2 separate regions of the Homo sapiens genome follow, and region 1 is linked to region 2. Evidence: fine-mapped expression QTL. Tissue or cell type: whole blood. Region 2 holds a variant in brackets; the other region holds the start of a gene. All regions are shown on one strand. Distances are from middle to middle. Region 1 holds the start of SLC71A2 (solute carrier family 71 member 2). Region 2 overlaps NUTM2F (NUT family member 2F).

What was found.
Region 1: it holds the start of SLC71A2, and the variant in region 2 is fine-mapped to the expression of SLC71A2 in whole blood (INTERVAL, PIP above 0.99). The same link has a PIP of 0.9 or more in T cells, adrenal gland, blood mononuclear cells, cerebral cortex, monocytes and nucleus accumbens.

What each region holds. Positions count from the first base shown.
Region 1 is chr9:94,372,333-94,376,715 of GRCh38, forward strand. SLC71A2 (solute carrier family 71 member 2) reads left to right here and starts at 2,237. Exons shown (of 12, transcript NM_032558.3): 1 at 2,237-2,595. The coding sequence starts at 2,488. RefSeq lists enhancers at 2,005-2,506, 2,507-3,006 and a silencer at 2,056-2,455.
Region 2 is chr9:94,321,199-94,325,581 of GRCh38, forward strand. It overlaps NUTM2F (NUT family member 2F), which reads right to left. Exons shown (of 7, transcript NM_017561.2): 2 at 4,040-4,383; 3 at 1,003-1,131; 4 at 1-34. It overlaps LOC105376154 (a long non-coding RNA gene), which reads left to right. Exons shown (of 3, transcript XR_930132.4): 3 at 2,544-2,804. Among named protein-coding and RNA genes, the nearest start is that of NUTM2F, 5.3 kb to the right of the region's middle. The variant C/T (reference allele first, on the strand shown) is at 2,158.

The DNA.
Region 1 (4,383 bases), 51 kb after region 2:
GGCTGAGGCACCACAATCGTTTGAACCGGAGAGGCAGAGGTTGCAGTGAGCTGAGATCGCGCCACTGTACTCCAGACTGGGCAACAGAGCAAGACTGTCTCAAAAGAAAACAAAAAAACAGTTTACAAACTTTTCTGTTTCATGGATACAGGAATCAGAAACTGATACCCAAGCTCATAAGTGGCATAAACATAATACTCAAACAGCATAACATAATACATATATTCCCTCTGTGTTTTGAAAACTATTTGTTAAAACAATCATTCAGAAAAGTAGACAAATCAGGCTGGGTGTAGTCGCTCACGCCTGTAATCCCAGCACTATGGGAGGTCGAGGCGGGTGGATCACCTGAGATCAGGAATTCGAGAACAGCCTGGCCAACATGGTGAACTTGTCTCTACTAAACATACAGAAGATAGCCAGGTCGTGGCATGCACCTGTAATCCCAGCTACTCGAGAGTCTGAGGCAGGAGAATTGCTTGAACCCAGGAGGCACAGGTTGCAGTGAGCCGAGATCGAGCCACTGATCTAGGCTGGGCGACAAAAGCGAAATTTCGTCTCAAAAAAAAAAAAAAAAAAAGAAAAAAGACCAGGCCGGCTCGGTGAGCCGAGGGGGGCGGATCACTTGAAGTCAGTAGTTCAAGACCAGCCCAGCCAACATGGTGAAACCCCGTCTCTACTAAAAATACAAAAATTAGCCGGGCATGGTGACGCGCACCTGTAATCCCAGCTACTCGGCAGGCTCAGGCAGGAGAGTCGCTTGAATGCGGGAGGTAGAGGTTGCAGTGAACCTAGATCACGCCACTGATCTAGGCTGGGTGACTGTAGCCTGGGTGACAGAGCAAGACTCTGTCTCAAATAAATAAATAAATAAATAAAAGTAAAGACTTCTGCAAAGTGTGTGTGTGTGTGTTTGGGGGTAGTGGGTGGGAAGCGAAAAAGAGGCTTTTTTTTTTTTTTTTTTTGGAGACGAAGTCTCACTCTTGTCACCCAGGGTGGAGTGCAGTGCACCATCTCGGCTCACTGCAACCTCCGCCTCCTGGGTTCAAGCGATTCTCTTCCCTCAGCCTCCCAAGTAGCTGGGATTACAGGCATCCGCCACCATGCCCGGCTAACTTCTGTATTTTTAGTAGAGACGGGGTTTCACCATGTTGGCCAGGCTGGTCTGGAACTCTTGACCTCAGGCGATCCGCCCACCTCTGCCTGCCAAAGTCCTGGGATTACAGGCGTGAGCCACCACGCCCAACCTGAAAAAATTCTTAAATGAAATGACTTTAATTCAATTAAAATTACTAATCCTGTTAATAGAAATAATTTTATTCTTTTTTCTATTGATGTTTGTAAAAAGATTTTTTTTTTTTTTTTGTGAGACAGAGCCTCACTCTGTCGCCCAGGATGGAGTGCAGTGACGCTATCTCGGCTCACTGCAACCTCCGGCTCCCAGGTTCAAGCTATTCTCCTGCCTCAGCCTCCCGAGTAGCTTGGATTACAGGCGTGCGCCACCAAGCCCGGCTAATTTTTTTGGTGTTTTTTGTTTTTGTTTTTGTTTTTTAGTAGAGACAGGGTTTCACCGCGTTGGCCAGGCTGGTCTCTAACTCCTGACCTCAGGTGAACCAGCCGCCTCGGCCTCCCAAAGTGCTGGGATTATAGGTGTGGGCCACCGCTCCAGGCCTGTAGGCTTTTTTATATTTCAGTATTAGGTGCATATCTTTCAAAATAAATAAACATAAGCCAGGCTTTTCCAACTGCGTCCTACACATTCTACAAGATATTAATCATGTGTCAAGAATAAAAAGTGTTGTGTTCAAGTACGTTTGGGAAACATTGCTAGTATATTATTTTCTTCTTAGAGAACCATAGAAAAACTTGAGAGGTTGGCGGGTTGGCGCAAACCAAGACCAAAACTGAACTGCAATCACTACCAAACCCCCACGAGTTTGCCCCTCCCCGCTTGCTAGCCTCAGTCCAGATTCTCCGGAAAAAGAAATCAGTCGTACGGGCTCTCGAAATGACGTACTTCCCGCGCGCCGCGAAGTCCTGATGCCAAGGGGCCAGTCGCGAGGTAAAGGAGGGGTCTCTGAAGTGGGCGTGGCGTCGCTGGAGGCTACTCAGGCGCGGGACTCGTTCTCGAGGCGGGAGCTGAGGTGCGGGGCGGGGCCTCCTGCCCGGCGCCGGCCTGTGGGGAGGCGGGGCGGGGCACAGTCTCTTAACCGTGCAGCCCGCCCCTGACGCCGCCGGTAACTGCGAGAGTCGGGGTCGGTGCGGTTTGATAAGTGGTCGGTTCCTGGAGCTGCGGTCTTCTGCTAGCCTGATCCGCAGCTTCAGCCTCCGCCGCCTCCTCAGCCCTCGGCGCCGCCGCTGGCGCCGCCGCCTGACCCGCAGGCCGCCGCGGGCCGCAGAGCCCATGAGGGCGCGGGCACCGCCGCCGCCTCCGCGGCGTCGCCGTCGTCCCGGAGCGCCCCGGGCTGGCGCGGGCATGGCCGCGGCATGAGCGTGGAGCCGCCGCCGGAGCTGGAGGAGAAGGCGGCGTCGGAGCCCGAGGCGGGAGCCATGCCGGAGAAGCGCGCGGGCGCGCAGGCCGCGGGGAGCACCTGGGTGAGCGCGGGCGCGGGGCCCGGCTGCCTGAATCCCGGGGAGGCTGGGTGGGGTCGCACCCAGGGCCCGCGAGCCCGCCGCTCCGGGCAGGGGCTTCGGCTCTTGGAAAGTCGGTCCTTTTCTGGGGGGGGAGGCGAATTCATCACGAATACAGGTTTTTCCTAGTGACTGCTCATCGCAGACAAAACTTTACAGGATTTGGTTATTGTTTCAAAAGGCGCTAGACATGGGACAGTGAATATAAGTAGTAATTTGGTTATTTCGGAGTTCTCCGTCCCTGTAACAGTTGATAACAGTTTTCCTGGCGCAGTTTCTCTCCAAGTCTACATGGAAAACAGGTAGGGAGCATTTGAATCAGACCGTCGACGGGGAAGTTGGCGGCAGATGCCGGGCAGCGCCTTGCTGCTCCTTCCGTGTTCTCCCGGCGTCGGAGGGGCGGTCCTAGCGATGGGGAGCAGAGTTTCCAGGGGCGTTGCTGGGGACCAGCCGAGGAGCAAGTTAGGCTGGCCTCTTTCTCCAGTTTTACTTTTGCTTGAGGTCGAGATGGCTTCTGACAATGATACAGAAGCAATTGAGCCCTGACTTAACTGGCCTGGTTTCGGCAGAACAGGCCTTGTCTGTGTCAGTGGTTTCATATGGTGCAATATTAAGCCTAGAGGGTTTGTCGTTTCTTCAAGGCCTAAGTTTAAAAAGGATTTTTTTTTTTTGGTCTTAGGACCTGAAATATAGAGAATGTTACAGTGAATAGAAACTGACACAATGGGAAAGTTTTTCCAAAGAAAAGTAGAAATTTTATGGAAATTAAATACATGTTTTTGGCTTTAGATTTTTAGCTTACATATCTGATTTTGTGTTTAGTTGAAGAATGCTAAGTGTTTACATGAACGTATTTGGGGATGTAAATCCCTATTAGTAGGTTGGGAGGGCAGCTGAAGCAGAAGGAGCAGTAGGTAGAACGGATCCGGCAGAGCTGGTTTTTAGTCCTGGTTTTGCCTGAACAGTGCGCACTCTGGACAGGGTATTGAAACAGCCTTGCCCCTCAGTGCCTCCTCTGTAAAATGAGGACTTAGTTGAAGTCCCCTCCCAGCCCAAGTGACTCCCTATTTTGAAAAGCATTTCAAAGTTAAGATCTCTGTAATATGAGAAGCTTATTTTGTCGAGGGAGAGAAATTCTGTATAATTGCTTGCTCTCATTTTGATTCGCGTTAAGTAGACTTGTCCTCTTCCTGCTTGCTACACAAAACTAAAGCACCAGTTCCTCCTCCTGTCTCATGAATTGATGGACAGTAATTACTAACCAGTGGCCCAGCTAGTAACCTGCGAGGTAGCTTCCTTCATCCCTTCCCATACTTAAAACAATCAGAAAGTCTAGCTAAGTTTATTAGATACAGATTTTAGGTTTTTATCCTCTCCTATGCATTCTTATGCTCAGAATTTCCTCAGCATTTTTGACCCAGACTTTGACTATCTCTTTCAAGACCCTTGCTCACCCCAGCGTCAGTCCACCTTGCACGTGGCTGAGTAGTGTGTTCTAGCATGTAAAGATGATCATTACTGCTGTCCTTAATTTTTTTCATTGGCTCCTTATGGCTTACAGAATAAAAAAATAAATTGGCAGGTTGAAGCATTATTAGTATAGTGATTAGACGAGCATGCTTGAAATCCCAGTTTCCACAGTTCGATAAGTTAACGTAACTCCTGATTAATAATGGCATTTACCTCAGAGGGTTGTGAGGGTTGCTGCAACTTGGCATCTAGTAAGCCCCTTAATACATACTAATGTTGTTA
Region 2 (4,383 bases):
CTGCATCTCCTCCTCAGCCTCAAATTCCAGGAACCTGTGGGTGAAGGAGGCCCAGGCTGTGCTGAGAGGGTCCAGGCCCCCTCCCCCCAGGACCAGGCAGCAGCTGAGGGCAGGGATGGGAGGGAGTGCCTCCGGCGGGCTGTCCAGGCCCTCACTGGGACCCATCCCCCAGTCCCAGGAGGGAGCTGCTCCCAGAGTTCTGGGCTCACCCTCCCTCACCCGGCCCCTGCAGAGCCCATGGCATCAATGGGGCTTCCTGACTCAAGTCAGGGCCACGAGGTCCAGGAGGGTCCCGGGAACCCCTCCTCCAGGTATCAGCTGGCCGGGGGTGGGGTTGATGGCAGAAGGCGTCAGGGATGATGCCCAGATGCAGGAGTCCTGAGGCTGGGACTGTGGGCCCCTGAAGGATAACCCAGGGACACGAGGCCCGGGAGACCCCTGGTCAGGAGGAAGCAAAAGCTGAGCCCAGAGGACAGGGCCCGTTTCCCCTGAGGCTGCTGTCTGTCTGTCTTCACGGACGGTTCTGCCCAGGAGCAAAGGCAGTCAGGCCAGAGAGGGGTCTCATGGTGTCCCAGGTACAGGTCTCCCCTGACCCAACTCCCTGGCCAGGCTGGGATGGGAGAAAACCGACTTCTGGCCACTGCTGTGAGGAGCCTGCCCCCCACTCTGTCTTTAGTCACTAGCACCCCTTCTCCCCATCCCCACAGCTGGAGGAGACCCCCTTTGGGCTGCGATGCTGGCTGCTCCCGCCATGACCCCCAGTGTCAAGACAGCGGTTGGCCCCAGGCCAGGCAGGGGGTGCTTCCCAAGAGGGCGGGACAGAGACCCCAGAGCACTCTAGGTGTCAGGAGCAGCTTCCTGAGGGAGCCAGGGGCCCAGGGCATCCTGTGTTTGTCCACACCCTCCTCATGCTCCATGCTGAGAAGCCACCACGGCCACCGGGCCTCTGTCATTCACTCTCACCCCGCCACACGGGCCCTGCCCCCAGGACCCCAGACTCACTTTTCCGCCATCTCGTAGAAGATCATCCGGTCAAAGTTGCTCGTGTGCTGCCATTCCCGCATGGCCTGCCACAGTCCCTCCTCCAGCGTCATGGTGGGCTTCCGCCGGGCCAGGGATCGGAGAACTGGGCTGTAAACCAGTGCAGTCAGTCCCAGTCTGTAAGCCCACCCTCCATCCCGGGCCCACCTGGTCCCAACACCTGGCTCCTGTCCTCCCCACACCTGTCCTGCCATCTGTCCCTGTCCTGTTCTCCCCCATGTGGGCTCCTCAGCCTCCAGGACACACCCCCAAGATCCAACATCAATAGAAGCCACTGAGTGGCCTCTCCGACTGCCTCTCAAGTCCTCGGTGTTATGATGTTGACAAGCGAACTCAGTGCTATGGGTGGAACATGTGTGTCCCCAACATTCCTGTGCTGAAGCCCTCAGTGTCAGTGTGTCAGTATTTGGAGGCAATCAGGGTTAGAGCAGGTCATGAGCGTGGGTCCCAGTCATGGAATCCGAGCTCTGATAAGGGCAGGAGGAGACACCAGGGCTCTTGCTCTCAGCCACAAGAGCACACAGCCAGAGGCAGCTCTCTCCAGCCAGGAAGAGGGCCCTGACCAGACACCCAATCCGCTGTCACCTTGATCTGGGACTTCTGGCCTCTGGAACTAGGAGACATGAATGTGTCTTGATAAAGCACCCAGTCTATGGGATTCGTTACGGCAGAGCCTGAGCTGACTGAGACACCATGCACACAGAATGACCTGGGAGCGAGGGTTAAAGTGCAGGTTCCTGGGCCACAGGACTGAGCATTTAACCAGCTTCCTGGGGACTCTGGAGCAAGGCAGCCCCTGGGGACACAGCCTCAGGGTCCTGGAGCTTGAGGAGCAGGAGCACACGTCCAGAACCAAAGCAGAGCGGTGTCCAAGCCACTGCAAGCAGCCAGGCACAGCTTCCCACATTCCCACAGGAGCCAAGGCAAAGGCCTGTGAGCCCGGGGCGGCTACACTCCAAGAATCAGGGTCCCCAGTGCACCGGGACTCCGCTCCAAGGGGGGATGCAACCAGTTCCAGGGTGTGGGGGCAGCGAGACTGTTGGGGAGGAAGACGGGGCCGCCTTCACCTACACCCCAGGCAGGGGACTCCCCTAGGGGAATGGCCAGTGTGTTGCA[C/T]GGTGGATATGCTCAAGCTCCTGTTTGCTCATCAGCGGGAAACACAGGGTCACAGAGGTGCCGCGGGGTGGAGAGAGGCAGGGACTGGGAATGAAACCACAAACTCTCCCAGATGCTGATGTTGCTGCCTCACAGTCACCACAGTCCACGGCTCTGGGCTGCTGGGCTCGTGGTGCACTCAGAGCTATCACTGGAGCCCGTGGCTTTGGGGAGCACTCTCCTAGATGGCCTAGTCCTGATAATGGTAGTAATGGGGACAGTAATCATAACTGCTGTCATGTAATGTGTCATAGTATGTGCCAGGCACTGTGCTACGTATGTCATATGTGAGCTCAGGTCATCTCTTTGCCATCCTCTGAATGAAACACCATTGTCCTTTTTTCTAGGGGGGATTGACGGTGAAGATGCTAATACCTGCCCAGCATCGACCCTAGTGCGGGTCCCAAGACCATCCCCCTGTGCAGGCTCCACCACCGCTGTGCTAACTGGACCGCGGCAGAACAGTGTGGGTGTGTGCCAGGTTCCTGCTGGGCCCTGCAGCTCCTCCCCCCAGCCCCATGTGATGTGCCCCTGGCCATTGACACTCAGTTCGAGGGAAGGCACTGGGGTGTACACTCAAAGACCTAAACCCAGGGTGGGTGCGGTGGCTCACGCCTGCAATCCTAGCACTTTGGGAGGCTGAGGCGGGTGGATCACAAAGTCAGGAGTTCAAGACCAGCCTGCTCAACATAGTGAAACCCCGTCTCTACTAAAAAATACAAAAAATTAGCTGGGCATGGTGGCGGGCGCCTGTAAGCCCAGGTACTTGGGAGGCTGAGGCAGGAGAATCGCTTGAACCTAGGAGGCAGAGGTTGCGGTGAGCCAAGATCTCACCATTGCACTCCAGCCTGGGTGACAGTGCGAGACTCCATCTCAAACAAACAAACAAAAAAGACCTAAACCCTAACCGTGGCTCATGTCACACCAAGAACGCTCTCTGACCTGGGTCTTCTGTAAACATTGTTGTGAAAATTATTGAAAGTGAAAGCCAGGCACGGTGGCTCATGCCTGCAATCGCAGCACTTTGGGAGGCCGAGGCGGGCGAATCACCAGGGCAGGAGATTGAGAGCATCCTGGCTAACATGGTGAAACCCCGTCTCTACTAAAAATACAAAAAAATTAGCCGGGCATGGTGGTGGGCACCTGTAGTCCCAGCTACTCGGGAGCCTGAGGCAGGAGAATGACGTGAACCTGGGAGGTAGAGCTTGCAGTGAGCCAAGATCGCGCCACTGCACTCCAGCCTGGGCGACAGAGTGAGACTCCATCTCAAAAAAAAAAAAAAAAGAAAAGAAAAGAAAAGAAAGTAAGTATTGGGGCGGGGCATGATGGCTCATGCCTGTAATCTCAGCACTTTGAGAGGCTGAGGCGGGCAGATCACCTGAGGTCGGGAGTTCAAGACCAGCCTGACCAACATGGAGAAACCCCATCTCTACGAATACAAAATTGGCCAGGCATGGTGGCACATGCCTGTAATCCCAACTACTCAGGAAGCTGAGGCAGCAGAATCACTTGAACCCGGGAGGCGGAGGTTGTGATGAGCTGAGATCGCGCCATTGCACTCCAGCCTGGGCAACAAGAGTGAAAGTCCATCTCAAAAAAAAAAAAAAAATTAAGGATTGGCTGGACTCACGGGACAGTGACAGGCAGTTGACGTGAGGCCCCTGACAGTCTGTCCTGAGCCGCAGCCAGATTAATGTTGCTGAAAACGTACCTTCCCATAGCACAACCCATCACCCTCACAACCGCCCTGCAAGCTCCCCTGAACAGTGTGACCTCCTGTCCATCCAGCAGCCTCTTTATGAGTGAGCTGCAGGACAAGCTCCGGCGCCCCGAGGACACTCACATGAGGAAGCAGGAAAGCGCTTCAGTGTCAGGACTCTGGGGAAGGTGCCTCCGGGCCAGGGGCTTGTAGTGCTGCCAGAGTCGGAAGTTCTCATAGACACTCTTGGGTTTACAGGAGTCGTCCGGCCGGGCCTTGGCCTGGGAGGGAGCCAGGCTGCCCTCTCCATGAGCCCCTTGTGGCCATGGCCTAGCGTTCCCTGGGGACACGATGGGGGCCACCTGGGCAGCCGGTGGTGGTGGTGGAAGAGGAAGGCCATGGGACCAGCCTCCCTCACAGGCCTGGGTGCCCCCAACCACCTGGGCAGAGGTAACGGGCACCCCAGGAGCAGCTGCCAGGAGTAGGGG